7 separate regions of the Homo sapiens genome follow, and all the other regions are linked to region 5. A link means that fine-mapping ties the variant in region 5 to the plasma level of a protein whose gene starts in the linked region. Region 5 holds a variant in brackets. A gene starts in each other region. All regions are shown on their reverse strands.

The links. PIP is the chance, under the fine-mapping model, that this variant and not a neighbour inherited with it causes the effect. The UK Biobank Pharma Proteomics Project read protein levels with antibody pairs (Olink). The fine-mapping took linkage between variants from a reference panel, not from the people measured, so its PIPs are less certain.
Region 1: it holds the start of HMOX1, and the variant in region 5 is fine-mapped to the plasma level of the HMOX1 protein (UK Biobank, PIP above 0.99).
Region 2: LBR starts here. The variant in region 5 is fine-mapped to the plasma level of the LBR protein (UK Biobank, PIP above 0.99).
Region 3: PKD2 starts here. The variant in region 5 is fine-mapped to the plasma level of the PKD2 protein (UK Biobank, PIP above 0.99).
Region 4: SLC27A4 starts here. The variant in region 5 is fine-mapped to the plasma level of the SLC27A4 protein (UK Biobank, PIP above 0.99).
Region 6: PTPN1 starts here. The variant in region 5 is fine-mapped to the plasma level of the PTPN1 protein (UK Biobank, PIP above 0.99).
Region 7: it holds the start of GLYR1, and the variant in region 5 is fine-mapped to the plasma level of the GLYR1 protein (UK Biobank, PIP above 0.99).

The regions. Positions count from the first base shown.
Region 1 is chr22:35,378,662-35,382,735 of GRCh38, reverse strand. It overlaps HMOX1 (heme oxygenase 1), which reads right to left and starts at 1,640. Exons shown (of 5, transcript NM_002133.3): 1 at 1,540-1,640. The coding sequence starts at 1,562. RefSeq lists silencers at 1,370-1,539, 1,840-1,919.
Region 2 is chr1:225,426,318-225,430,391 of GRCh38, reverse strand. It overlaps LBR (lamin B receptor), which reads left to right and starts at 2,354. Exons shown (of 14, transcript NM_002296.4): 1 at 2,354-2,438. RefSeq lists a silencer at 1,938-2,767 and enhancers at 2,600-3,271, 3,272-3,944.
Region 3 is chr4:88,005,338-88,009,397 of GRCh38, reverse strand. It overlaps PKD2 (polycystin 2, transient receptor potential cation channel), which reads right to left and starts at 1,763. Exons shown (of 15, transcript NM_000297.4): 1 at 1,070-1,763. The coding sequence starts at 1,664. RefSeq lists silencers at 881-1,020, 1,071-2,000.
Region 4 is chr9:128,338,500-128,342,499 of GRCh38, reverse strand. It overlaps SLC27A4 (solute carrier family 27 member 4), which reads right to left and starts at 1,973. Exons shown (of 13, transcript NM_005094.4): 1 at 1,662-1,973. It overlaps TRR-TCT3-1 (tRNA-Arg (anticodon TCT) 3-1), which reads left to right and starts at 2,334; the gene lies at 2,334-2,424. It also overlaps the pseudogene TMSB4XP4. RefSeq lists an enhancer at 631-810 and silencers at 1,447-1,846, 1,917-2,326, 1,955-2,596.
Region 5 is chr10:113,586,226-113,590,299 of GRCh38, reverse strand. It overlaps HABP2 (hyaluronan binding protein 2), which reads right to left. Exons shown (of 13, transcript NM_004132.5): 13 at 698-2,095. The coding sequence ends at 1,931. It overlaps NRAP (nebulin related anchoring protein), which reads left to right. Exons shown (of 42, transcript NM_198060.4): 41 at 503-634; 42 at 1,221-1,586. The coding sequence ends at 1,325. Among named protein-coding and RNA genes, the nearest start is that of HABP2, 35 kb to the right of the region's middle. The variant C/T (reference allele first, on the strand shown) is at 2,013.
Region 6 is chr20:50,508,471-50,512,544 of GRCh38, reverse strand. It overlaps PTPN1 (protein tyrosine phosphatase non-receptor type 1), which reads right to left and starts at 2,162. Exons shown (of 10, transcript NM_002827.4): 1 at 1,955-2,162. The coding sequence starts at 2,017. RefSeq lists enhancers at 2,089-2,188, 2,401-2,988 and a silencer at 2,299-2,528.
Region 7 is chr16:4,845,539-4,849,612 of GRCh38, reverse strand. GLYR1 (glyoxylate reductase 1 homolog) reads left to right here and starts at 2,325. Exons shown (of 16, transcript NM_032569.4): 1 at 2,325-2,385; 2 at 3,403-3,439. The coding sequence starts at 2,348. UBN1 (ubinuclein 1) reads right to left here and starts at 2,132. Exons shown (of 18, transcript NM_001079514.3): 1 at 1,403-2,132. RefSeq lists silencers at 1,452-1,541, 1,552-2,271 and enhancers at 1,324-2,166, 2,462-2,521, 2,822-2,881.

The DNA.
Region 1 (4,074 bases), not on the chromosome of region 5:
GATCACACCACTGCACTCCAGACTTGGTGACAGAGAGACTCCATCTCAAAAAAAGAAAAAAAAAGAAAAAAAGGGCCAGGCATGGTGGCTCACGCCTGTAATCCTAGCACTTTGGGAGGCTGAGGCGGGCAGATCACCTGAGGCCAGGAGTTTGAGCCCAGCCTGGCCAACATGGTGAAACCCTATCTCTACTAAAAATACAAAAAAAAAAAAAAAAATAGCCGGGCATGGTAGTGGGCGCCTGTAATCCCAACTACTTGGGAGGCTGAGGCAGGAGAATCGCTTGAACCCAGGAGGCAGAGGTTGCAGTGAGCCGAGATCGCGCCACTGCACTCCAGCCTGGGCAACAGAGCAACACTCCATCTCAAAAAAAGAAAAGCAAAAAAGCAAAAAAACAAAAAAACAAAAAACAAAAAACAAATTCAGGCTGGGCATGGTGGCTCTCGCAGCTTTGTAAACACTCTTCAGTCATTAAAACACTAAATAATACAGTCCCCCAAACCAAGGGGGAAATCCTGGTACAGGTAGTTCGCAGTGGAGAGGAGGAGGAGGTACAGCATAACCCAGGAAGAAGCAGCAGCCCCATGAACCGGCATCTCCAAGTTTGTAATTGCTTTGATTGGCTTTTAGACCCAATATTTAATTCAGTTATTTTGTTAAAGTTCCAGATGCAAATCTCATGACCCCCTATCATGTTATGCTCATCATGAAGGCGTCAGGGTTAAAAAGCCTGAGAAAGTCTGCTTTAGTCAAAGAAAAAGTCTTTCTGGGAGTATTTCTGTCATGGGTCCGTATCCCTGCCTCCCCACAGAATTGTCATTTTTCCCTTTTCTCCTGCCCTGCTTCCCTGTTCTACAACACAGCTGGTCAAAGTCTCAGGAGAAATGGCACATGTCTGTAAGTCCCAGCTACTCTGGAGGCTGAGGTGGGAGGATGCTTAAGCCCAGGAGTTAAAAAAAAAAATACTAACAAATTATTGAAAGAAGGGAATGAGTGAGACCTGGAGGTGGGCAGACCAAGGTTCAAGGCCCAGTTCTGACACCAGCTAACTGAGCACTCTTGGGCATGTCGCCTCCCTGAACTGGGCTATCTGTGAGACATGGAACACCGCAGCCAGGGTGATGTCTGGCTCAGGTCCTCCGTAGCTAGTGAGGGACAGATGCCACCAAGAGAACCAAGCATGCTCCCCCAGGCTGGCAGAGCCCCAGAGATCTAGATTCAGCAGAGAGCAACTCCAAACACACCTCGAAAGTAGGATTAAAAAAAAAATTGGCTACCTCAAAGACTGGATACTCTAGGGACACTCCCATCTTGGTCACCAACCGCATACCAGGGTGCCAGGCATGTAAATTACCGTTCCTCCCTCCAACTACCCTACGGGCACAGGCAGGATCAGAACCCCGCACCTCCTGACTCCAGAGCCCAAGTTTCTGGCTCCTGGGCTCTGTCGCTGTGTGGCAGTGTCCCGGGGTGGGGCTAGGACGCAAGCAGGGTTGGGAGAGAAAGGCGCCCGTCCCGCGTCCCGCGCCCCGCGCTTGCCTGTCGGGTTGCGGACGCTCCATCCGGCCGGTGCTGGGCTCGTTCGTGCTGGCTCCGCGGGCGGCGGCTGCGCTGAGGACGCTCGAGAGGAGGCAGGCGTTGACTGCCGGAGCCGCGGCCGGTCACATTTATGCTCGGCGGGTCACGTGGGCCAGGCGGAACAGCTGATGCCCACTTTCTGGCCGGGCGTTGCAACACCCGCAGGGGCCCGCGCCCAGCCCGCCCCGGGCCAGTGTGGGGTGGAGAGGAGCAGTCATATGACCCTTGGGAAACAAAGTCTGGCCATAGGACTTTTAGAGAAAACACACACACACACACACACACACACACATACACACACACACACACACACACACACACACAAAACCTTTAAGGAAATCTGAGAAGCTGCAGGCTCTGGGTGTGATTTTGCTCCTTCCAGAGCCCCCCCTTCTGCTCCCTGTCCCCTTGGGACTTGATGCACCCCAGGCGTCCCAGAAGGTTCCAGAAAGCTGGGAGGCAGCGCTGCTCAGAGCAATAGCCTGGTGGGCAACATCAGGAACTTAGCAACCCCAGGCTCTGCTGTCTCCAGCTCCCTAAAATGTCACCTGCTGGAATCCTCTGCTGACTGCTTGCCTCCTCACACCCTCTTTAAATGTACATTTAGGATCTGTTTTTTGAGTTCCTGTCAAAAAACAGAGACTCTAGTATTTTCATGGTTCATCCCTACAACTGACCTGTGAGGGTAGATCGCTTCTATTTTACAGATGGGGAAACCGAGGCTCAGAGGGGTGCAGTGGTGTCACACATAAAGCAGGATGCCAGTGTCCAAACCCAGGGAGGAGACTAAGTCCCCGCCTGCCTCCTCCACACTCTGGCAGCACCTGGTATCCGCCTGGACTGGGACACCTGTCATACAAACTGCTTCCCTGCTGGAATGCGTGGGACACTCTTCCAGGCACATTCAGGTCTGACTTATACTCAGTGCCTGCTCAGGGCCCAGAGCAGAGCTGGCCCTTGCTGATCGCCTATTGAATCAATTCTGCATGAGGTGGACTCCTTAGAACTCGGGGGAAATAGGGTCACTGGGTGAACCCAGAGGACAAAACGAATGGACCAGATGATTCATACAGTCCTTTCCCAATACTGTGATTCTCATTCTAAGATTTTTTTTTTAAGATGGCTTTCAGGCCTGGCATGGTAGCTCACACCTGTAGTCCCAGTACTTTGGGAGGTTGAGGTGGGAAGAGCGCTTTGAGCCCAGTCGAGGTGGGAAGATTGCTTTGAGTTCGAGACTGGCCTGGGCAACATAGGGAGACCCTGTCTCTACAAAATATAAAATAAATTAGCTGGGCATGGTGGCACATGCCTGTGGTCCCAGCTACTTGGGAGGCTGAGGCTGGAGGTTCACTTGAGCCTGGGATGTAGAGGCTGGAGTGAGCTGTGACCACGCTACTGTATTCTAACCTGGGCAACAGAACAAGACGCTGTCCCTCAAAAAAAAAAAAAAACAAAAAAAAAAAAAAAAAACTTCCTGGAATTCAGCCTAGGGCCACTACAGCCCAGAGGCACTTCTGAGATTGTATTGGAAAGGATCATCCTCCCAAGGGTGAGCTAAGGGGCCTTGAAAAAAATTCCCCTTCTTCCTCTGAAGGTTCCCCGAAAACCAACCGACAAAAGTCAGGTTAAGAGGAGAAAAGACATACAAAAATGTATTGTAATGGGGTAATCACGGAAGAATGGTGACCCTGTAACCCAGTGGAGTACAGAGGCTACCCAGCCTTTTTTATAGGGGAGAAGGGAGATAGGGAATGCAGACAATTCTTTTGAAAGACAGTAAATCATTAGCAAGAAGGAATGGCCCTGGAGGTGAAAGGCCGACTTTAAGGGAAGGTGGAGGTGGAGCCGCACAGGGACAAAGGTTGTCCTAGGCAGATAAAGTCCCCCAGGTAATCTCTTGGCACTGTCCTCAGAAGAACAGGTAAATCTGTCTGGGTCTGGTGATGACTCCCAGTCTCTTTCTCTCTCCAGTGGTTGATCTTTCCTGGATATTTGATGAGATTACTAGAAAAAGGGCTTAACACTGGCCGGGCGCGGTGGCTCACACCTGTAATCCCAGCACTTTGGGAGGCTGAGGCAGGAGAATCGCTTGAACCCGGGAGGAGGAGGAGGTTGCAGTGAGCCAAGATAGTGCCACTGCACTCCAGCCTGGGTGACAAGAGCGAGACTCTGTCTCAAAGGAAAAAAAGACTTAACACAATTGCATTTCTTTTGTAAAGAAGTGTTCTTGGTCAGATAAGGAAATTCCAGAGAGCGTCTCTCCCTGTGCTTGTCGGGGGAACAAGACAAGCTTACAGGGACCTTGACTCTGAGGCAGCTCCTAAGGCCTCTCATCATGTCAAAGCACCAGTTGTCCTGGTATCACTTTCTGAGCCCCAACAGTGGCATGTAAAGCACAAAGGTGGAGACCTTGCCTACTACTTTGCTTTGTAAATTCCCAGTTCCTGGAATAGTGCCTGGTAGGTCACAGTTAATACTGAATGCATGCCTGAATGA
Region 2 (4,074 bases), not on the chromosome of region 5:
CTCATTAACAACAATGGTGCCAAGATGCGGACTTTTAAGTGACTTTTACTTTATAGATTCTGAAAACCCACAACTTGCTAGTTGTGAGTGACAAGCATCTTTCTGAGAACTTTCTGAAAATTCCCCACTTCCAAGTTTACACAGCCTTTAGTAGACTTAAAAAAGAAGAGAAAAATACCAAACAGTTCCTTTGTTGAGAAAGCAGCCTACATATAGATCTGATTGTTCATGGTATGTTTGAGTCCACGAAGTAGAAATGAACAAAAATTATTGCTTAGTTTTCCTGATGTCAAATCAGTTTTGTTTTAAAAATGTCATTAGTAATTTATTAGGTAAAATGTTAGCTAAGCTAACTCTAGTTAATTTACAAAGTTTTGGCTTCATTTTGTTATGATGAGACTTTATAAACCTGATCTTTAAAATAAGGTTCTTAAAATTTTTAAAAATTTATTTTATTTATTTTTTGAGACAGAGTTTCGCTCTTCTTGCCCAGGCTGAGTGGCAGTGGCATGATCTCAGCTCATTGCAACCTTCACCTCCCAGGTTCAAGCGATTCTTCTGCTTCAGCCTCCCGAGTAGCTGGGACTACAGGTGCTCGCCACCGTGCCCAGCTAATTTTTGTATTTTTTTAGTAGAGATGGGGTTTCACCATGTTGGCCAAGTTGGTCTCGAACTCCTGCTCAGGTGATCCAACCGCCTCGGCTTCCCAAAGTGCTGGGATTATAGGCGTGAGCCACGGCGCCTGGCCAGGTGTTTTTTTTTTTTTTTTTGAAACGAATCTTCTTCTATTTCACAAGTGGAAATCATCCAGGAAATGTGCACCTCAAGGGAAATCCAGTGAAATCTTGATTCTGGGTAGAACATATGAGAAAAGAATAGTGTAGCACTCACTGCTTGGCTATTTGGGATAGGATCTGTCTTAGGTCCCCATAAGCGCTTTTATTTCTGTGTAATTTACTGCAAAACTCTATGAGGTAGGACTAATATTATCTTATGTCAAGGGTTAAGACAATTGAGACTTGGGGGTTTGTCAAAAATAAAAGATTTTCTGACTTTGGAGTGCGATGTGCATTTCTGTTGCACAGATCTCCACCAAGGGCAAATTCGATGGCAATGACAATTTGATGTCAGAACTTCTCAGGAAAGGCTCTGATGAACTCATTCACACTGCATGTGAATGACTGAGAAAACTCGATGTATTTTCACTTTTTTTTTTTTAAGAAGTAAACCTGGGTGTTTTGTAGTTCTATGAGAAAATGAAAGCTGAAGCTAGGCTATAGATGAAAAGTTCTATTCATTATTACAATTTAATAATGCTTCCAAAATAGCAATTCACTTAAATATACCTAGTTAGGGTGTTAAGAAATACTTTGATTAAAACCACACTGCAAAATAGGGAACTTCAATGGACTGCTTTAAACTCTCGACCTCAAAGGAAGGAAATCAACTAACCGATAATGAAAACTAGCAGAAAAAAAAAAGCTTAGGATCCGTAACAGATTCGGAGTCAACAATGACATGACTCAGCATTTTGGGGTTCAATTAAAACCAGGCTTGTAGGTTGCAGGTCAAGTTGTGTTTCGGTGTGTAACGCATAAAACTTCTTGTTCCACGCTCCGCGGTGTTGGGGATTTTCTACTGCATCTCGACAGCATCTCGGGTAACAACCGAGCCCCTCCTCGCAGCGTAAGTCGTAGGAGCCCTCGGCCATTCTTCCCCCTCCCTCCCGCCGCCGGTCCCAGCATCGGTCCGGGTTCGCTTCTACGCAGGTTCAGCGGCCGCGGACACAAAAGCGCCCCTGCTCGCCTTCGATGCCGCTGCTTGGTCCAGGGGCTTCTGTGGGATTTTAACACGCTAAGGAGGGCACTCATAGTGTTTTACCGAGAAACGCTTTCGAGCTCGGATCTTTGGTGATCACTTCAAGAATGTATTAGTTTTCTTTGTAGCTTAAAAAAAAATCTCGTTCGCCAAGCCACCTGGCACCCCAAACACTGCTGCGAGCGCTGGGAGGGAAAGGGCGGGAGCGCGCGGGCTCCGTGTGCTGCGAGGGCGCCTGGGCGGCTGAGATAAGGCGGTGGCAAACGTCGCGCTCCGGGCCGCCCCGCCAGACTCGGTTTCCCCCGCTCACCGGCCTCCCCGCCCCCAGGCAGGGTGGGGCGGGGCGGACGCGCCACGGCGCGCGACCAATCGACAGCGCCGGGGATGATTCAAAAGGTCGAGGAGCCAATGGGAGCCCCGGGCGGCCTCGCCGGTGGGGAGGGGAGGCGAGGGGAGGGGAGAAGCGCCGCGAGGCGGGGCCGGGGAGGCGCGCGCCCGGCTTGCGGGACTGCGGGGCGCGAGAGCGCGGCCGGGTAGCGTCGCGCGCGTGGATCTGCCGCCGGGTTGCTGTGCGACTATTCTCCGGGAGCCGTCCGTGTCACCGCCGGAACCTGGCGCAGGTGAGTGCTTCCACCCCCGCCCTGCTCCCAGCTCCCCGCGGCGCGTTCTTCGAGGGGCCGCTGGGGGAGGAAGCCCGAGGCCGGCGCAGCGGCCGGGCCGGGGACCCTGGGCGCGGGGCCTGGCGCGGCGGCCTTCCCCTCCTCTCCTCGCCTCCTCGTCTCCTCCCCTCCTCGCCTTTTCTGGCCCAGTCGGGTGGTCGGGGCGGCGGCGGGCGAGGCTGGAGCTCGCCCGAGCCGGGCCCGCTGCGGAAATGGAGCTGGGGGTTTTAAACTGCGGACGTTTCCCTCCATGTTGGCGGCGCGGCGCGGCTGTGGAGCGGCGGCGGCAGGGAGGGTTCGTGGGCGCCTTTGTCCTGCCCCACCGCAGCCTGGCTCCCGGCCCCTCCGAGCGCCCGTCTGACAGATGAGCAGGCGGCCCCGCGGTCCTGCAGTAGGAGGCTGACAGGGCGCGGCGGCCTGGCGGGACGGGGAAGGGTCTGCGGCCGAGGTGGGCTTAGATTCGCGCTGCTTGTCACTGGCTTTGAGGGTCGTGGTCGTCGCGGTTTGGTGATTCTCCAGGCACACTGCATGGCTGCTCGCTCCTATGCGTTGAATTCCTTCGCCCGGACAGTCTCAAAAATCGGGTATTTAGGCGGGTGTGCGTGTTCCTGCTAAAGCACGGTCCTGCTTTTTCACCTTTTTGAGGGTTCAGAAAAATGTTCTAATGACAGCCAGCCTCGCACTGCCAGTAGCCTCAAGGGGCACTTAGTAAAGCACTTGCTTTCGGAGGGCTTTGTTGAAGGCGCTTTCCCAGAGTGATTACGGGGCCCGGTCGGGTGTTCACACGAGGGCGCGGTAGATACCGTGGTCCGCGCGTGGACACCTGCAGCGCGAGGCGCGGCGCCTGGGCAGTGCCAGGGTGAACAGGCCCCCGGGGACCTTGCACGTAAACACGTGTAGATCTGTAGTTACGCATTGTAGTAACTGGTGTGTGGGAGAAGATGGAGCTACGGAGAAGAGCAGAGGGATCCTAATTTAGATTAGGCAACAAGTCCAGTTTAAGTTTTGTTTCTCAGGCTGCCTGGGAAGAGGGAGAAGAACGAGCAGGAGGGGAATGATGAGCTGCCCAAGGATGTTTATGGGGAAGAAGGCGCTTCTGCCTTTACAGCCAGGAAGGTGGCCTTTCTGTTGCTTCATGAAGCAAAGGGCGCGGAGCAAGGCCCGGGGTTCCTGTTTGCATTTTGCCTAGTGGGGCTACCGGGGCTCAGGTGTGAAAAGGAAGCTGTCCAACGTCATTCGAGCGTCTTGCTCTATGCCACGTTTAGATGAATTTGGAGAAGTGAAGGAAAGATGGCTGGAGACCCCTGTAATGTTAATGAGCAGAGAATTGTTGTGTTCACAAACAGTAACATACCGGAGCTGGAATGTGTGAGGATTGCAGTGCCAGTTGACTCTGAAGTTAGCGGGCATCTGGCTTAATAGAGAAAAACCTGAGGGTCTCCGTGTTTTTCCTGTTTATGGCGAATGAGGACATTGGGTGCAGTGAACAAAATTTTTCTTTACAAACACACTTGCCTAAAACATCTCTTGTAAGAAAATCCTGTGTGTATCTTGACTCCTGTAGGTGAGTGCATAGTGAGTGACACGAACAAATGTG
Region 3 (4,060 bases), not on the chromosome of region 5:
GGTTTTAATCACACTGCTGTAACAACACCTGGATTGTTTTTGTGCAAGACTTTCAAAACTGACAGAAGGAGAAGAACAAGAAAAACTCAACTGAGAATGGAAACTCTTAAAAATATAGATTAAAATAATTTGGAGGGTAAAAGCAAATGAAATACTTTCCCAAGGATACCTCTGACAAAATTTGTAAAAAGAGAATTTCCTCTGGTACTAGAAAATTCATGTCCTCTTACTGGGCACTGGCAAATTTGAAAATTCCTCTTCTGCCTTTTGTAGAGCTGGGCGCACTGGGCTCAGACACATTTATCAGCTGCTATCTGGTGACTTCATCATTTTGGTGGAATTTCAAAGAACATTAATTTAGTTATTTAAAAACATACTTCAAATTTTTTTAAAACAATGTAATCTTTCCTTTGCAACTGTTTTTAGAAAAATGTCTAGAATTAGAAACGGCCAAATAACTTCACGATATTATTTTATTCTATTTGTGGTGTTCTTAACAGCTCCCACTCCTCAAAACAACCACACACATCACCAAAAAAATGCACCAATGACAATCTGCCACACTCCTCCCACAACTTGACATTATATGCACTGTACTGCTACCCTTTTCAGCCCGGGACAATGGAGTGTCCAGGCAAGAAGGAAACCACGGGTGACTATAACATTTTCCTTTAGATTTTGTGACATTGGCAAATATGCAGTTGCAACTACCATCAGTTACACAAGTAATGTTCATTTTTTCCTCTACAAGAAAAAAAAAAACAAAACCCAGATGTACTCTTTCACTCTAATTAGGCTTTCACTAATTTTCAGTAAAAAAGACTATGGTGACATATCCTGAAGAAGGAGGTATCCAATAAATATGCACCAACAAAAGAGCAGTGGAATTCCGCGCTGGGTACCGGAAATAGGGCAGCACTAGCGGAGGTGGGGAATGCGCTTCCAAGGGAGGCGGAACGCAGAGGGGATGCGAGATGGAGCCCGGGGAGCTGCCGCAGCGGGCGATGGCCCCGGCCGGCGCCGGCCGTTCTGGTTCGTGCATCTGCCGCTGCGGGTCGCGCGCTCTTACCTCGCAGCCCGCGAACCAGCCTCTCCGCCCAGGCCACTCGGGGCGGCTGCCCTTCCAGGGGGAGGTGGCGATGCAGCGGGTCCCCGCCGCCGACTGGGCTGGGGCACGGCGGGCCCTGGTCCTCTCGCCGGCGCCGCCTCCCGCTCGGGTGGCCCGCGCCGTGGTAGCCCCCAAGCCCCCGGCTCCGCGCGCCCACGGAGCTCACGGCCGAGGAGGCGGCCGACCTCCGGCTGCCCGGGCGCCACTCTACGTCCATCTCCACCACCATTCCGCCTTCTTCCCCTTCCACCTCCTCCTCCTCCTCCTCGGCCTCGAAGCCGGGGTTATCGCGGCTCCACGCCTGCCGGGAGCACGACGAGAGCGGAGGAGAAGGGGAGGCCGCGGCTCCGGCCGGGGGGTCCCGCGCGGCCGCCTGCCGGATGCGCTGCATCTCGATCTCCAGGCCCCGCTGCTCGCAGAGGCCGCCCGGGGCGGCGAGGCTGGCGCCCACGGCCGCGCAGCCAGCCATCAGCCGGCCCGGGTCCGGCGCGCGGGGCGCGGGCGGCCGCTTGGCGTCCCCGGGCTGCTGAGGCTGCACGCGACTGGAGTTCACCATCGCGGTCACTGGCGTCCGGCGCGCGGGTGCGCGGCGCCGCGCTCGGCGCTGTGCGCCTCAGGAGCCATGTTCCTTTCTTCCCGGCGCCCGCCGCCGCCTGCTCCCCGCCCCCGACCTCCCCGCGGTCCCGCGTCCTCTCGCCCGCCCCTTTGGCCCGCCTCCCTCTGGCCTCGCCCCGCCTCGCCCATCCGCCGCGGCGCGCTGAGCGGGGAGGTGCGAGGGAGCCGCCCCCGCGGTCTGCGCGCTCGCCCGGCGGCTCCCGAGTCCGCGTTCCAAGTGGAACCGGAGCCCGGGCGCGGGCGCCCACGTTCCATTCCCGGGAAGGCCTGGGAAGGGAGGGAATCGCTCACCCGCCAGCCCGCCTGCAGGGAAAGGGCTCCTGGAGCTGTCGATGCCTGCCCGACGCTGAGATAACTCTTGGGTCCCAGTTATCCACCAGCCACTTCTGCCTCGATTCACCAAAGGGCAGGGAAAGAACCTTTTGGTGAGATGGTGTGAATTAGCGACATCCAGCCTGAGCTGAAGTCTCCAGCGGGTCAAAGAAATCTTTCCATTTGCAAACTACCAAGGCTGACTTGCTGTGCATTTGGCGGGCCTCCTGCCCCTGATTCTGCTGGTTTGGAGATGCTTTCTCGCTCTTTGGTTGGCTTCTGTCTCCACACATTGTGGGGATCCCAGGGATTCGTCATAGGACTCTCGGATCGCTGGTGCCTCCACTGTGATCTCCGGTCTCCCTGCGGCCAGCACTGACTTCTAGCAACAGAATCCTGCATGAGGGCCTAGGCACAGAACTTTATTTCCACTCTTCTGAACACATCTAATGTGATGCTCTGCAATTGTCTGAAATTTATCCTACCCTAAGTCATTATCTTGTCCCCTTCTCTGGAACCTGCTTCACTTCCCGTATCCCAAGGTGAGGTTTGGGGCTTCGCTGTCCTCCTCACTTCCCAGGCCACTCTTCTTCATGGAAGCCTCGCGGTTTACCCTCCACCGCCTACACCTTATCTTCTTGTTACTTTTGCCCCACAGATATCACCCTGATATGATCTCTGTTTCTCACTCCTGCTGGCTTGATCTTATGTCTTGCATTATTCCGCATTAGAACAATTGATCCCTGTCAACTCCCATCTCTATTCTCCACGTCGGTGTCCTCACTATTTCCAGGTTATATTGCAGAACCAAAGCTGCTTATTTGTCACGTTGATGCTTAGACACCTCTGTGGGCTTCTGGCAGCTGAAAGGATAAAATTTAATTTCTGTGGTTTGGTTTAGTAAATTCTCATAATCTGCTCCTGTATTTGTTTGTTAGGGCTGCCATAACAAAGTACCAGAGACTGGGTGGCTTAACAGAAATTTATTTGCTCACCTTGTCTCTACAAAAAATACAAAAATTAGCCAGGCTTTGCGGTGTGTGCCTTTGGTCCCAGCTATTAGGGACGCTGAGGTGGGAGGATCGCTTGAGCCCGGGAGGCAGAGGATGTAGTGAGCCAAGATCGGGCCACTGCACTCCAAGTGACAGAGTGAGACTCTGTCTCATAAAGAAAGAAAGAGAGAGAGAGAAGAAAGAAAAAAAGAAGGAAGGAAGGAAAAAGAAAAGAAAAATTGTATTTTCTCACGAGGTGTTGGCAGAGTTGGTTTCTTCTGAGGCCTCTCTCCTTGGCTTGCAGATGGCCCCGCTTTTGTGTCCTCACGCCGTCTTCCCTCTTCCCTCTGTATGCGTCTGTGTCCTAATTGTCTATTCTTATACATCATATTGGATTAGGGCCTACCCTCATGACCTTGTTTTCACTTCATTACTTCTGTAAAGACCCTGTCTCCAAGTATGGTCATGTTCTGAGGTAATGGGGGTTAGGACTTCAACACAGAAATTTTTGGGGGGACACAATTTAGCTTTAACAGCTCTTAATGTACTCCTCTAGCATGGCATCCCATGCCATCCATCCACCTTAATGAATTATTCATTTGTTCTCTAGGCACATATAACATGCTGCTAATATTTAGGTAATTATGGCTACCTATTACCTGATCCTGCAGTTTATTAATTTAGATATTCATGTTCTTCTCTTAACTGTGAGCTTCTCAAAGGCAAGACTGGTGGGTCTGGAGCACAGCCCTAGCTCATGCTATTCATCAGTTCATTCTGAAGACATTTCCTGTGCCCTGAATTAAGGTCTGGGCATGTAGAGAGGAGTATGATACAGCCTTGGCCCTCAAGAGGAGACAGACCAAAAATGAGAGATTACCAAGTGGGTTAAGGGTTATGGTGCCTGTCATCCAAGGAACTTCTGAAGCTGAAGATGTCCTGAATAGCACCAGCAGCACTGCAGAGTCGAAGGATTCTTACAGACACATTCCAACAGAGGAGAGCCAGGCCTGGAAAGAGAATGCAGAATCTG
Region 4 (4,000 bases), not on the chromosome of region 5:
GTGAAAGGGGCAGCATAGTCATTTAAACTTGATCCAACCTCTTTGCATCTTACAAAGTTAAACAGCTAAAAGAAGTAAAATAAGAAGGCAATACTTGTGGAATGTACAATGCATATTGGCGGTGCACGCCTCATTACGATTCGCTTGCTTGCTTCTCCTGTTCAATCGTTTCTTTGGAAGGCAGTGGATTTTTCTCTTGCATCTCTGTCTTCTTCAGTTTCGACTTATCGAATTTCTCAATCTCAGCCATATCGGGTTTGTCAGACATGGTTGCGGAGGAAAAGCGGAGCGAGGCATGCGAGAACGAGCGAAGTCTGGTCTGCGCAGTGGCCACCACCGAGTTGTCCTGAGACGTGTTCTAAGAGGCTTTTCTAGCCAAAACATGACAGTTCACTCTTCTGACATCCAGGGTCCCTAAAACCGGATGGCCTGGGGGTGGGTACTGACTTAAGAGCCTCTGGCTCGCTGGCAGTGGTGGCTCACACCTGTAATCCCAGCACTTTGGGAGGCCGAGGCAGGCGGATCATGACGTCAGGAGTTCGAGACCACCCTGACCAAGATGGTGAAACCCTGTCTCTACTAAAAATACAAAAATTAGCCAGGCATGGTGGCACACACCTGTAACCCCAGCTACTCAGGAGGCTGAGGCAGAAGAATTGCTTGAACCCGGGAGGCGGAGGTTCCATTGAGCCGAGATTGTGCCACTGCACTCCAGCCTGGGAGACAGAGCGAGACTCCGTCTCAAAAAAAGAAAAAAAAAGTCTCTGGCTCGACTCCCCACCCAGAACCCAGGGAGGTTCTGTGGATGACCAGGCCAAGTCAAAGGGGCAGCTCCCTGGAAAAGGAGCCCTGCTTGGTCCCTGCCCATAGACTCAGGTATCGCAGTGCGTCTGTTGGTCTATAGAGGGCGACCCAGAAAACGAGTTAGAGCCTGGAAGTGCTTGAAAGGTGACCGCCCAGGGGGCAAAGCTGATTGAGGGAGGCGAGGAGGACCTTGAAGACACCACCACCCATCACACAGACACACACAGCCACTCGGATGAATCTTTGGGGTCTAGGGCTTAGGGGAAGGCGAATGACTTGACTGTGCTTCAGGGGCTGGGTTGAGCTAGGACTCTTGGGTTCTATTCCTGGAGCTTTGAGGACTCGATCAAGGGGACATCTGATGGGACTGTTTTTCTCCGAGTTTTCCTGTTCTTGGGAGTAGATGAAGGTCACAAATGTGAAATGGCCTGAGAGCCTCCAAGCCAGGAAAAGGGAATGGTCTGGACCACAAGAAGCCCTGGGAGACCATCTCCCCCTCCCCCTCGCGAAAAGCAAAAGCCGGGGGCGGGGGAACTGAACCAGAGTCCTCAACCCCAACGCCAGGGTCCAGGGTCCTCAGATCTCTGGCCTCCCATAGCCCGCCATAGCAGAGGGGCAGGAACCTGTCCTGGAAGGCTGGGGCAAGAAGAGGCCAGAAGAGGGTGACTAGTTCCCTCGGGCCCCTGTCCCGGGTCACGCGTGCCGCCCTCGCCCCTAGACAGCAAGGTAACAGTGCGTCTGTCGGGGAAATAGCGCCGCAGGGCGCGCCCCCCACCTGGGGTCCGCACCGCCACCTCGCCCGACTCGGCCTGGCACATGTCCCCACCCGGGAACCCACCAGCCCGGTCTATGCTCACCCGGCGTCGGCTCCGCCGCGCGGCGCCCCGTCCAGATGCGGCCCGGTTGCAGCAGCGTAGACAGCGTGAGGGGCATTAGCCGCCCCTGGACGCACGGAGCCGGGTCTCAGCAGGGTTTAGCCGGCTCTGCGCCCTGCATGGCCCGGCCGCCCCGCCAGCCCCGCCCGCCGCCCGGCCCCGCCCGCCGCGCTCCTACCCCGCCCGCCTCCCGCACCCCAAACCTGCTGTGCCAGGCCGCAGCACCGCCTGCCGCACCTTCCCCGAAGCCGGCAAGCCACAGAGCCGGCGGCGCAGCGCAGCCCCAGCGCGCCTGACGCCGCTCGGCCCCAGCCCGCCCTGCTCGCGCAACGGCTTCGGGCGGCGCCGCCGCGCGGCACGCTGGGAGTTGTAGTCCACGCCGCGCGGCCCCACCCAGCCGAGGAGACCCCCGAGTCCGCGAGGAGACAGGCGGGCTTCACCCCGGCCCTTCCTCCCTGCCGACCCCGGCCCTTGCCCCCTGCTGTCCCCAGCGCCCGGATGTAGGAAGAGCACCCCAGTCCACACCACAGCCGAAAACCCGGAGCACGCTCTCGGGCCCCGGCCGAGTTCAGCAAACACCCAGCACCACACCTAGAAGCTCGCTAAGAGGGCGGTTTCAGGCAGAGGTGAGCGGGGCGGCCGGGTTCCGCAGCCGGCTCTGTGGCGCAATGGATAGCGCATTGGACTTCTAGCTGAGCCTAGTGTGGTCATTCAAAGGTTGTGGGTTCGAGTCCCACCAGAGTCGAATTTTGATGGCTCCTACTCCCTGACTTTCACCTGCGTGTTTTAAGGACTCCAGGACCTATCTAACAAATAAGGTTCAGAACGAAAATCATAAGTCACACCCAACTTTGCTGCGACACAGCCATAAACCTGGTGTCTAGGTGACTACGAGAAATCCTTTCTCGTACCATGGTGTCTTGTGAGCAGCCTGGCACACCTGTTGGCACAAAGGACACGGATTTGGAGGCCCTTAGTTAACTTCACCATCTATGATCTCTGGTCCCTGCAACAAATCAGTTAACCTATATTTGTCATGCCACCCTTATTTGTCATGCCACCTCCAGAGCCATAGGCGAGTGGCCAGATTCTCGGCCCTGTTGGGACTCTTGGCCTCTGAAAAATTGGTTTCTTGTTAAGTAACCATGTTGGGCATCCACAGTTGCCACTTGTCCTTAAACATTAATAGATCCCTGGGAGGCTGAGGCAGGAGAATTGCTTGAACCTGGGAGGCGGAAGTCGCAGTAAGCCGAGGTTGCGCCACTGCACTCCAGCCTGGGCGACAGAGCAAGTCTCCATCTCAAAAAAAAAAAAAAAAAAAAAAAAAAAAAAGATTCTGGGACTGGCGTGGTGGCTCAAGCTTGTAATCCCAGCACTTTTGGAGGCTGAGGCAGGAGGATCACTTCAGCCAGGAGTTCAAGACCAGCCTGGGCAACATAGTGAGACTCTGCCTCTACAGGAAAAAAAAAAAAATTAGCCAGGTAGCTCTTGCTTGTACTCCCAGCTACTCAGGAAGATGAGGTGGGAGGATTGCTTGAGCTCTGGAACTTGGGGCTGCAGTGAGCTGTGATTGCACCACTAAACTCCACCCTGGGCAACAAAGTAAGACCGTGTCTCAAAAAATAAAAATAAGCTGGGCACAGTGGCTCATGCCTGTAATCCCAGCACTTTGGGAGGTTGAGGTGGGCAGATCACATGACGTCAGGAGTTCGAGACCAGTCTGGCCAACAGGGCGAAACCCTGTCTCTATTAAAAATACAAAACTTAGCCGAGCGTGGTGGTGCACGTCTGTAATCCTAGCTACTCAGGAGCTGAGGCAAGAGAATCACTGAACCCGGGAGGCAAAGGTTGCAGTGAGCCGAGATTGGGCCACTGCACTCCAGCCTGAGCAACAGAGCAGTGAGAGCCTGTCTCAGAAAACTAATAATAATAAAAATAAAGATGAAATTTTGGTCTGATAAGGATTTGGACCTATTTCTTCTGGAATATAGGGTGCCTCCTTTTGGGGACTTGAGTAAATTCCAGCACCACATCCTTCATGGGTATCACCATCAGGAGGCAGAATGTGCAGTGGTATGGGCATGAGCATTGAGTTCGCCTTCTCAGCTGAAAGGTCAAGATTCATTTTGTTCTTACATATAAAAAATGGGACATACTAATTAATAATACCTCACAGGGTCAGCGTGGAGATTTGTGGGGAGTATTTTTTTTTTTTTTCCGAGACGGAGTCTTGCTCTGTCGCCCAGGCTGGAGTGCAGTGGCGCGATCTCGGCTCACTGCAAGCTCCGCCTCCCAGGTTCACGCCATTCTCCTGCCTCAGC
Region 5 (4,074 bases):
AGGCTCAGAGAGGTTCAGTGACTTACTCAAGATCCCATAACAAATAAGTGGCAGACCTGGGATACCAACCCCTTTTGGTTTGCTGTGAGGGCCCAAGCTCTCGATGGCTATGCTAAACTGTTTCCAAGGGATCTTAGCTATTAACCCAGCCTTTGCACTTTCTCTGGGAAGAAACTGAAGCCCAGAGAAGGGAAGTGGCTTCCCTAAGGCCACAGAGTGTGTGGAGCAGGTGTCACTACCCCACCCACTCCCAACTGTAACTTTTGTCACTTGAATGGGAAGATGCAAGAGACAGCAACATGCCGGCTGGACTCACAGCACATTGCGGCCCCTGTGCCAGGGAGATGCTGCTTATGATAAATTTGTTCCCCTTGTTCTGGCTTTACTGATGACAGACAACATAGTCTCATACTGTGGCTGCCTTTTTAATCTTCTTTACTTAATGGTCAAACCGCTCCAAACCCTGCTGACATATTCCTCTTGCTTCCCTCTTACCCTCAAGGTCAAGTATAAATCAGACTTGAACCTGACCAGAGGTGTTGGCTGGACCCCTCCTGGCTCCTACAAAGTGGAAATGGCTCGGCGGGCTGCGGAACTGGCCAACGCAAGGGGCCTGGGTCTCCAGGGAGCTTACGTGAGTAGCAAGCTGCAAAGCCACCCCTGGCTTGCAAGGCCATGGGGAAAGACAAACTCATTGTTTCTTTTCAAAGTTTATTTTTGGCCAAAGGTCAGCTAGCTCTAAAGAAGTGTGAAACGCAGCTCAAACAAGGCGCCTAATTTCATGGGTCTGAGATGACCAGGCAGATGACACGCAGGTTAAACTTCCTGCAGGGCTTTCTCTGAAGTCACAGCCATTAGTTCTGCAGAGGCAAACCTACCGGGGCTACATCAATCCCGGGCCAGGGCAGCCCAGGCTGTGCTGACTGCTTGCTCGTTACATTCGCAGAAAGGGTCAGGGACTCGCTGGATATGACAGTCTGCATTTTGAACCCTACTTTGTTCAGAAGAAAGAAGCCAGGTCTAAATGAGAGATTGGCTTTGCTTTCTCATTCCTGCCTTGAAGGCCCTTTTTCTTGGGGAGGGTAGAAGAGGGGAAAAGGAAAGGGAGGGTGAGCCTGTTAAATGCTCCCTGTGCTTCTTAGCGTGTCCTGTGGGAACCGGGGCCGGGAGTGGGGGTGGGGGAGCTTCATTTTAACTTGGGGTATGTTTGATTTCAGCAGCGGGGGGCAGAAGCAGTGGAGGCTGGAGATCATCAGAGTGGGGAGGTGAACCCAGATGCCACTGAGATTCTGCACGTCAAAAAGAAGAAGGCCCTGCTGTTGTGAGCCATGTCCACCCTGATTCCTGAGAGGCCAGAGAGGAAGTTTGTTCACCAGAGACAGGCTTCAGATGGCTTTGATTTCGGCAAGCTGGAATGGCCCACCAGCCCATCCCAGATCTTCCTTTATTAAAATAATAACTCTGAAAGCAGATGGAGAATGTTGTATTTGTGGTCCTCTCTGATACCTAGACGTGGATGGCTGATTCTGTTGAGTGCCTCGAGTGTCTGGGCTGAGGAATAAAGATGTGATGGTGGTTCCCGCTGATGCTGGGGATTCTGGAGTCTGCATTTGCAGGATGCCTGTGGTGGAGGCAGTCTCTGTGAACACTGATTTTCTAGAAGGTACAATTGGGTAAGGAAAGCAAACATACTATGTTGTGTTGATTCCATCATTCCTTGGGTTACCAAGGGAGGCAGAAGAAGCCTGGTGATATTGTGCAAATGCTGGTCTGGGAAGGCCCAGGCTGGGTGGCAGTTGTCTCTGCTTAGAGTAGGGATAGTCTACTGTGTGGTCCCCTGGAGGCTCTGGAGGTGTCCATTGTTGGCCATGAGGCCTCCCGGTGTCAGGGTGCCAAGGAGAGTGGGCTCTGAGGTCCAGAAGACAGTACCTTAGAAGCCACTTTCACTTTTGATGGTGGCTTTGATCCAATTCAGGAATTTGGTAACTTGGGTGTAGACCCCTGGCCTCTTC[C/T]CACACTCCAGGCCCCAGCTCACTATCCCATAGACGTAGTAGGTGCCGTCCTTCTCACAGGTCAGGGGGCCTCCAGAGTCACCCTAAGGGAAACAGAGGCATAAGCTCATCCTCGTGAACCAGAGACATCTGGAGATGCCCCCACCTCTCTCCAGGGGGTGTCAGGGAGGGATGGGGTGGAGTCCCTTGCCAGCCTCCGTGGGCTTCTCTGGAAAGCAGTGACAAGGCTCTCCCCACATCTCACATGATACAAGACTCTAAGGGAGAGAAGATAACAGTGTCCTCCGTCCCTGAGTCCACGCGGGCTTAACAGAGGAGCCGCACAGCTGCACTTCCCAACTCTCAGTGATGCAGATGTTATGACTGTGAGTTCTCGGGGGCCCTCAGCACACATAGGGGAGGAGGTTGGGGACTCCAAGGCAGCGTGGCCTAGGTGCTCAGCATGGTCTATGGGGTTAGATCTCCTGGGTTTTAAGCCAGGCCCTACCACCTGCCAGGCATGTGACCTTAGGCCTCAGTTTCTCACACTGTAAACCATAGATAGCAATAGATCCCCATCCCCCAGGGTTCTTGTGAAGATTGTTTGTAAAGTATATAGAACAGTGCCTGGTTCATATTAAACCCTCACGGAAGGTGGCGAGGATGATGATGGTGAGGAGAAGAAGACATTGAGGGTGATAGCTCTCAAAAACTTAATACTGCTTAAACACTACAACTGACAGGTTTTTAAAAAATGAATTCTCTATTTTAAACTTAGCCACGACCTTGTGATCTTATAGATAGATTTCCATTTTATAGTTTAGGCATCTGAGATTGAAGAATTGCTTTCATCACTGATAAAAGCCATACAGTAAGAGACAGAAACAGGTTTCAATTCACAACTATTTGTTTCCAAAGCCTGCAAGTGAAAGCCTTCAATTATCTAGGGAATTGAATGAGGTTTTTTTTTGTTTGTTTGTTTTTGTTTTTTTGAGACAGGGTCTCGCTTTGTTGCCCAGGCTGGAGTGCAGTGGCACCCTCTTGGCTCACTGCAACCTCCGTTTCCCACGTCCAAGCGATTCTCCTGCCTCAGCCCCAGTAGCTGGGACTACAGGCATGTGCCACCATGTCCACCTAATTTTTGTATTTTTCTTTTAGTAGAGACAGGGTTTCACCATGTTGGCTAGGCTGATCTTGAACTCCTGACCTCAGGTGATCTGCCCGCCTCAGCCTCCCAAAGTGCTGGGATTACAGGCTTGAGCCACCACGCATGCCCAGCCTGAATGAGCTGTTTTCTTAACCATCTTCTGGGAAGGAGTTTAGGGCAAATTGCACCCATCTGCCCCTCCTCTGAGTAGGTGAACATCCTTGGCTCACTGGGAAGAGACAGATAGTCACAGGAGAGCCACAAACCCTGGAGAGAGGAACCTTGATGTCCCATCCCAAAGTGAGTTCAAGGCCAGCAAATCATTGTGGGTTCCTTTGTACGGGGAGGCTCCCTGAAGGAGTTGGGATTTGAATGTTGGCATGCTGTTTTCCAGGACATTTAGAAGGCTTATGGGGACAACAGTCAGAAAATTCTAAATGGAGGTGTTCCTGGGATTCTAGAAAGGACCCTGTGTGATGTGATCCCTACAGATAAAGGGACTATGGGGAATGGGCTTTGACTTGGGGCAGGGCCTGAAGTCACTTTAGCATTGGTTGATGGAGCCACCACCTTCTCTCTCTGCAACAGTGTCTCTGAGTCACAAGCCTCAGCAACTTGGAGTTCTGAAAGGCCCTAGGCTACAGATATACTTAGTTTTCTAGGGCTAAAACACCCCCCCCCCCCCCACACACACACACACGCACACATGAGTCCTAATCATGAGTTAATATTACTGTGAAATCTCTAGCTCTAGGCCTTCTTCTTTCTCCTTCTAGCCACTGGTCTTCTGGACAGTTCCCTGTTTACTGGGATTCTCAGAAAGGCTGCCCTACACTGAGGCCACAAGCCCCTTTGGTGTCCTGCAGACTGTATTGTTCAAATCCCAGCCCTGCCACTGGCCACCCAATTGCTATAGGCCAAGATAACTTCTCTAAG
Region 6 (4,074 bases), not on the chromosome of region 5:
TTGTGGGGTTTAATTGTGGCAGAAAAACTTAAGAACAATGAAGGAAATGAATTGAAGACTGACACACTCCATGCTAGTTGCATGCTGAATACAATTTTAACCATGCTTGGGTGACAGGTCAACCCACTCTGGCTTAAAATTGTAAGAAATAAAATTCAACTAAGAACTAAGTTACAATACGTATTTCTTGTTGTCAACTCAGTCAATTTCAGTGGAAAAGACTTCTCTCCACAATGCTTCCACTGTGATGGGGTGTATCATAATCAACTCCAACACTTCAGACCAACAATTTTCATTTAAAGACATTTTAGACTCTACTGCATTAAACTGATGCAGAAAATTTGTCTACACAGTCTCAAAGTCCCTTATGGAATTCATTCAGCTAATTCAGAGACCAGATATGGCATACAAATTTTATATACTGATCAATCATACTTATTAGTATATAGATTACAGTGGTTAGAAATATTAGTCTAGCAGAAACTAATATACACACTACAGTCCAAATAAAAAGAATCCTGTCAAATAAGCTTGATGTAAATCCACATGAAAATCAAGGCTGCCAAAAAAAAAGGCTTTTGTTAGTCAAGCATACCAAAGAACTGCTTAAACCTTTTTTCCTTTCTAAGCGGAGCTCAAAATAGATTTTAATACTACAGCTGATGGATCTCACAATTTGCCTTTTGAGCCTATAAGCTGAAAACAGAATCATCTGCTGTCTCCCTTTACACAAGTAACAAAATCTCTCTATTCTGTATATCGCTTATTTAAGATACTGTGCAAGTGTGGTTTTAGTTAATCTTAACAACCCCCGCAATGACATTTAATTGGGAGTATGTATCTTATTCAGCTGCTTGTGAAAGGAAGAGCTCTTTGTGTTTTTAACTACTTGTTTTATAGATATATGAGAAACCCTCCTTTCCTAACTTTTTAACACACAAGGAGATGACTCCTAAGACAAGGTCATCTCTGCCACGACCAAAGACTAAGCTGCTCATTGAGGAAAGATGCTATTTTAGAGAGGGTTAAAACGTTAACCTTCCTGAGTCCCTGCCTGAAAGAATAATATCATGGCCCCAATGGAGTGGGTACCGCAGGCCTCCTGGCTAGAAGGTTCTTTAGCCCCATATTCTCACGGCTTTCTGCTCCTCTTGGTTCAGCTCACAAAGCAAATGTCTCCTCCTTTGACAGGCCTTCCCTGATCCCCTTCTCTAAGACAGCCGGCCTTCTATGCAGTCACCCTGTACCCCGTTAGGAAGTCGTTCTCTTCACAGCACCTGTCACTATCTGAAATTATTTGCTTTTGTGTTTGATTGCCCTATTCGACTCTAGGCCCCACTAAGGCTAGGATCTTGCCTGTCCTGATTAGCAAACACCACCTCCAATGCCTAAGCGGTGCCTAGCACAGAATAAGCTTGCCAACTCCTATCCAATAAATGAATGAACAGAAAGGGGAAAGGGGACTGTCATCTCTGGGACTCGACGCACACTGAGACTAGGGGAAAGGAAATGTGAAGGAGGGACGGGGGGAGTAACCTTTTCCCCCAGGGAGACAAAGGAAGAGAGTCTGAGGTGGTCCACTCCAGAAAAGGAAATAGTGGGGGTGCTAAATCACCCCAGGGGACAAAGAGTGGACAGGCAGGGGGCGGGGTCGGGGTGCGAGGGATTCGCGTTGAGAGCACAGACCGGCGGTCCCCCGGCTTGAGAGATCACCCGAGCTGGAGAACAGAAGGGAGGTGGGGGATCGAAGGGGGCTCCGACGCTGCGGCGAGAAACACGCCCGCCCCGGGGACAAAGGGTGGGGGGACGCAGTGCGTCGCTGTCCCATCGAATCCTCAAGCAGTAGGAGCGAGGCAGAGGGCAAGACCCAGAGGGAGTCTGGGGCCTGGAGGTCTGAGGGGATGTTCAAGCGGCCTAAGCGAAGGGCCCGCCACGCTCCGGGGCGCTCCCGCACCTGGTAAATGGCCGCCCAGCTCCCGGACTTGTCGATCTGCTCGAACTCCTTTTCCATCTCCATGACGGGCCAGGGCGGCTGCTGCGCCTCCTTCTCGGCCCACTGCGCCGTCTGCCGCTCTAGGCCGCGTCGCGCTCTTAGCCCCGAGGCCCGCTGCAATCCCCGACCCCTGCAGCTACCGCCGCCCTAGCCGCTGCTGCTTCTTCATGTCAACCGGCAGCCGGAACTACGCATCACGCCTGCCAGGGGCTCCGCCCCTGAAGCAGAAGGACCAATCAGCGATCGAGAATTTCGACAAGCACTTCCGCGGGGAGGAGCCGGGGGCGGTGCTAGGGGAAGTGGCCCCAGCACCGCGAGATATCTAATAGCGCGCGTTCCCTCCTCCGCTTTGGGGCTCTGGGCTCGGGCGCGGCGCGCGCCTGTTGCCTAGGCGACCCCGGGAGCCCCGCCCACGGCGCGTGGGCTCTCCAGGCCCGGGAGGGCATTGAGTTCCAGCCCCGACCCGGCCCGTTGAGTCACAGAGTGAGTGGCCTTAAAGTAGTCATGCACCTCCTTTCCTGCAGGGCCTGGGCCCCAGCCTCAGTAATCCAAGCTGGAGTATGGGAGGAGGGCACCGTGCTCTATTTCCTGCCTCCCAGCTCTGGCCAGATGTCTGCCCTTTTTTCATGAAACTCAGGAGTATCATGTTTCACTACGCTGCTGGGGAAGCCCACTGCTCTCTAAGGGTAGTGTCCCTGTCTGAAACGCAGAATTTCCACTTGGGTGCTGCAGGAATGAATGGATGGGGATGGAATGATTTTCAGTGTTTCCCGAAGTATCAAGGAACTCCTGCTCAGACTGAACTAAGCAGAGCACAAATTCCATGGTGCATTATGTTAAATAAAAATCATAGGAGCCCAGGCGCGGTGGCTTACATCTGTAATCCCAGCACTTTGGGAGGCAGAGGCAGGCGGATGTCTTGAGGCCAGGAGTTCCAGACCAGCCTGGGTAACAGAATCAGACCTCGTCACTACTAAAAGTTAAAAAATTAGCCGGTGTGGTGGGGCCCAGCTGCTGGGGAGGCTGAGGCAGGAAGATCACCTGAGCCCAGGAGGTGGAAGCTGCAGTGAGCTGTTTTGGCGCCACTGCACTCCACCTTGGGTGGCAGAGAGAGACCCTGTCTTGAAAAAAAAGGGCTGGGTGTGGTGGCTCACACCTGTAATCCCAGCACTTTGGGAGACCGACGCAGGTGGATCACCTGAGGTCAAGAGTCCGAGACCAGCCTGACCAACATGGTGAAACTCGGTTTCTGCTAAAAAAAAAAAAAAAAAAAAAAATTAGCCGGGCGTGGTGGCGCATGCCTGTAATCCCAGCTACTTGGGAGGCTGAGGCAGGAGAATCGCTTGAACCCTGGAGGCAGAGGTTGCAGTGAGCCAAGATAGCTCCACTGCACTCCAGCCTGGGCAACAAGAGCGAAACAAACAAACAAAAAAAGTTCTGGCATTAGGGTCTCAACAGACTAGACTAAAAATCAAAATGGAGTCACTCATGCTAAAGTTCTACATCATCAGACTGATAACCTTTCACAAAATCAGAAGAGAGATACACACCCTGATTTCCCAAGCAGACCGTTTTAATCAACATAATGAAGTTCCCTTTGCTTTAATCCTTACAACAAAAAGTAACCTGAAGTAACCCGATGCGACCAATCAGTTATTTCTCTCTTGTTCTGTTTCCCTGTTCCTGCCTTACAAGGAAAGTAACTTTGAAATGACCAATCTGCTTTTTGTTCTTTGTTTCTGCTTTTTTCAGCCCTTTTCTGTCTATAAAACCAACCTCCTCTGCTCAGCTCATTGGGACACTTGTGCTATTTTGAGGAATGAAGTCTTGCCCGATTCTAGAATCATGAATGAAGCCAATTAAGATGTTTAAGTTTGTTGTAATTTTGTCTTTTGACATTTACGGTCACCTGGGAAGTGTGTTGAATAATGCAGGTTCCTGGACCCATCGCCAAATGATTCAGATATCTTTGGTCTAGGGATGAGACCCGGAATCTGCATTTTCACCAACAACTCCAGCTGATTCTCGTACCTATGATCCTTAAAGCACCCATGAGCAGGTTGGTCAGGTTGCCTTCCTGC
Region 7 (4,074 bases), not on the chromosome of region 5:
TCTCAAACAAAAAAAAGAAAAAAACAAAGATCCCCCTTTAAAAACCTCAGTTGGTGTTACTGAGAAAATACTAGCCTTCCTTGTCCCTTGGTTATCCTCAGCAATTTTTAATTTTTTCTTACTATATATATATATATCTCCTTCTAAACATTGTATTTTCAAACTGGTTATTGATGAAACAGAAAAACTAAATTGTGCATTCCAACTTATAATGAGTACCCTTCCTGAATTCTTATTTTAATGGGTTTTTTGGTTTTTGTTTTTGTTTTCAAAATAGGCAGACCTATCATCCACGGAAATGAGAATTCTGTCTTCCCTTTTCCAAAAATTGCATTTCTTATTTTTGTTTCCTGTCTTACTGCACTGGCTAGAACTTTCAGGTTTTAGGCAATATATTCTTATTATCTAATAGTGGTAGAAATGTACCATGTTTCTGATGTTAAGGGGAATGCCTCTAGGTTTTGGTGCAATGTTCATTTGAGATTTTTTTTTCTTTTTTCTTTTTGGCGGGGGGACGAGTCTCGCTCGCTCTGTCGCCTAGCTGGAGTGCAGTGACATAATCTCGGCTCACGGCAACCTCCGCTTCCCGGGTTAAGCGATTCTCCTGCCTCAGCCTCCCAAGTAGCTGGGACTACAGGCATGCGCCACCACGCCCGGCTAATTTTGTATTTTTAGTAGAGTACTGGGTTTGACCGTGTTGGCCAGGCTGGTCTCGAACTCCTGATCTCAGGTGGTCCACCCGCCTCGGCATCCCAAAATGCTGGGATTACAGGCTTATACCACCCTGCCCGGCCAAGATTCATGTTTTTATTTAAGTTATTAAAATCTCATTCAATTCCTCACAAATTCAGAATTTTTAAACAGGAACTTATGTTAAATTTTTATCAAATTATTCCCTGGAATCTTAAATACGCTTTAAAGATCACTTTGTCTTAAAAATACACACGCAGTAAATGACAGTCCGTGCAGCTAATTCTTGGTACTTCAGGGAAACTGATCTCCCAAGAAAAATCAGGCTGCGGGACGACCCAGTACGCTAAACACCGACTTGCAACCGAAATCTCTAACCACCACAATGCCTTGGGGAAATGCGTGTCGACTCGCCACCTTTGCCAGCTGGCAGTGACTCAACAAGAGCCCGACACCAAGTCTAAGTCAATCCTTAACACTGTGGAGTCTGTGATCGGGACTGGGATCTTTTGCAAAATTGTGATTCTACCTGGTCTGCTGAAGTTTGGGCCGACGCTGCGCTCAACTGCAGTTAACACTTCCCAGTTCATGGTTCAGTTTTAAAGTGTCCAAACTACGCCCGGCATCTGTCTTCCTGTTGTCACAACTTTTTCAAAAGTGCAAAACTAGGGCAAGGCTAACGAGAGAGCCCGGACCCGACAACGACACGCACCTTTGTCCCCAGCGCCGACGCGGGCCGCAGACGTCCCCCCGCGGCGGTCCTCATGCCGGTCCCCGGGCGGCGGCGCAGCTAGCGGTCGGCTGCTAAGCCGTGGCTCCCAGCGGGCGGGCGGCCCGCGCCTCGGCCCATGGCCGGGTCCCCGAGCCCAGGGGAGCCTGGTGTGCCGCGCCGCGCGCCGGCCCAGGAGGAAGCGAAGAAATGCCAACTCGACGTCCGCGCAGCCACTCCGGGGACACCAGGGGGTCGGGGGAGCAGCCTCCGGTCGCCCCAGGAGAACTTGCGGCGCGGGACCCCGCGCTCAGACGGCGCCTCCGAAAGCGGCCGTCGGGAGGAGCGCTCCAAAGAACACGGGCGGCGGGAGCGGACGGGCGCGGACACCGGGGCCTCCCGGCCTGCGGCCAAGCAGAGTTGCCGGGCGCGGGAGCCCAGACCCGGCGGAGGCTGAGTTCCAGGCCGCGCCGAGCTCCGTCAGGGTAGCTCACTGGCGCTGCGACGGGGCCGACCAGCGCCTCGGGCTCGGGAATGGCCCCGGGGCCCGCGCCGGACCAACGGGCGTAACGGAAGCGCCGAGAGGGGAGGGGCGCGGAGTCCAAGACCCGGGGGCGGGGCGAGCCGCGAGGCCGGCTCCCTCTCGCGCTCAGCCGGTCGCACCGTCGCCGCCGCCGCCGCCTCAGACCGCGGGCGCTTCGTTGTCACGAGCCGAAGGGAGGGGGAAGGAGCCGGGAGTCTCTGCGCTCCGGCGCGCGGAGACCGCGGCGCTCGCGTCACGTGCCCCTCGGTCGACCAATGATCCCCGGCGGGCGCGGTGACGTCAGAGTAGCGGCGTGGCCAGTGACAGCCGGCCCCCGTCACGTGGTCGGGCCCACTCCAATGGGCGGCGCCGGGGCGACTTGCTGTTCCCGGCGGCCCGTGCGTCGGCGGTGGTTGGGTGGTAAGATGGCGGCTGTGAGTCTGCGGCTCGGCGACTTGGTGTGGTGAGTCCGAGCGGCCGGGCCAACCGAGACGCGCCGGGGAGCTACCCGCCTGGGCGCGGGGTTCGCTGCCGGCCCTGGAGCTGCCTTTTTATGCGCTCCAGGTCGCGGAGAGAGGGGAAGAGAAGGTGCCGGCGCTTGCGAGCGGCGCCAGGCGGAAGGGGCAGTCCAGTCCCGGGGGACCGAGGCCGAGGGTGGCCACGTCGGGCACCGGCTTTGATCCCCGAGGCCGGCCGGGTGGGGTCTGCACTCGGGGCCCAGATACTGGCGGCCCCCGTGAAGGGAGCCGCCGGTGCCGCGAGGCTTCCCCGGACGACCGGTCCCCGGGGTCTTGTTGGGGCTTCCCAGAAAGCAGAAGCGCCGGGGACCGGACCTGCGAGATCTGGCCGGTGCCATTCGGTCAAAGCCCAGGTTGCGATGCAGCCGACCTGTGCGGCCGGCTCAGCCGGGGTTGTCTAAACCGGACTGCTGGCGTTGCCCCGCGAAGAAACGGCGGGGGGACTTCTCCTTTACAACCGATGGCTTGGCAGTGACCAGTGCACGCTTGGGTGCCTCCCGCGGTCTGCTTCTGTGTCCCAGACAACCGCCCGAACCAAGACTTTGTCGCCGCCTCCCTCGAGCTGCGTAGCTTGTTTCTCCACCCAGAGGAAGGCTTCCATTAGCATTTGTCAAAGCCAGGCAGGTCTCCTGTTGAATTAAACCAGACTTAGGGAGGGAAAGTCTGTGTTTACAGAGGAAGCTGTCCTCCCACCCCCGTCATTAAGAAGCTCTAGACAAGTGACTTTTGACAGTTGTGTTGTTCTGTATTCCTTGTCAACAGAAGAATGGATATGCGTTGTGCACATAAGTATACAATTTTGCATTTTACTTCTGAGGGTGTTGGGCCCAGCTATGAAAGCTTTTGTTTCGGCATTTGAGGATGCCAGCAGAGATTTAGGAAAATAAATTGCGTATTGAGTGGGTTGAAGGAGATGGACTGGCTTTTGCAGGGCAAGTGTTGACTCTTTGTGTTTTCTCTAGGGGGAAACTCGGCCGATATCCTCCTTGGCCAGGAAAGGTGAGTGTCTTGCTACTAAAGGAAGAGATCTGAAGTTGGGTTTGAAGAGGTGGAGAATGTAAGATGCATTCCTCTCAGTTTCTAGTATTGAGTTAAATTGGGCTCATTCAGATGGCACTTAGAATTTTTTTTCCCCTAGTATCGGTTATTTTTTAAAAGGCAATGCAGTATACACCAGATCATTAAATCTTCTCTAAACCCTTATTTCTGGATTTAGAGGAGGTTTATGAAGTTTCTTTTTTAACCCCGGAAATAATTCTAGTCTGAATTTAGCTTTATGCTTAAATGTAACAAAAGGAGAAGAAAATATAAATTATCCAGGAAGAAAGTCTAAATGTAGGTTAGTGAAAAGCCAAAGTATTTTTGTCCCAACTAAGTTTAAATCTTCTTTCCATGTTACCATATGTGCTACTCCAGTGCCTCTTTGCAGAAGTTGGCATTCCAGATTTTGCATGAGGTGATCCATCATTGCTTTCCAAATGTTGTGTTTTTATATTCTTGCTTGGAGCCCGGGAGGTGTCTTTAGATGGTCTCTTTGCAATATGGTGTTTTCTGTGCCTCGGTTGTCCTTTGTTTTCACTATGTCCTGTGTCAACCCTTCCTGCACAGGAAGTATTTCAAAGAGTGTCGTCTGC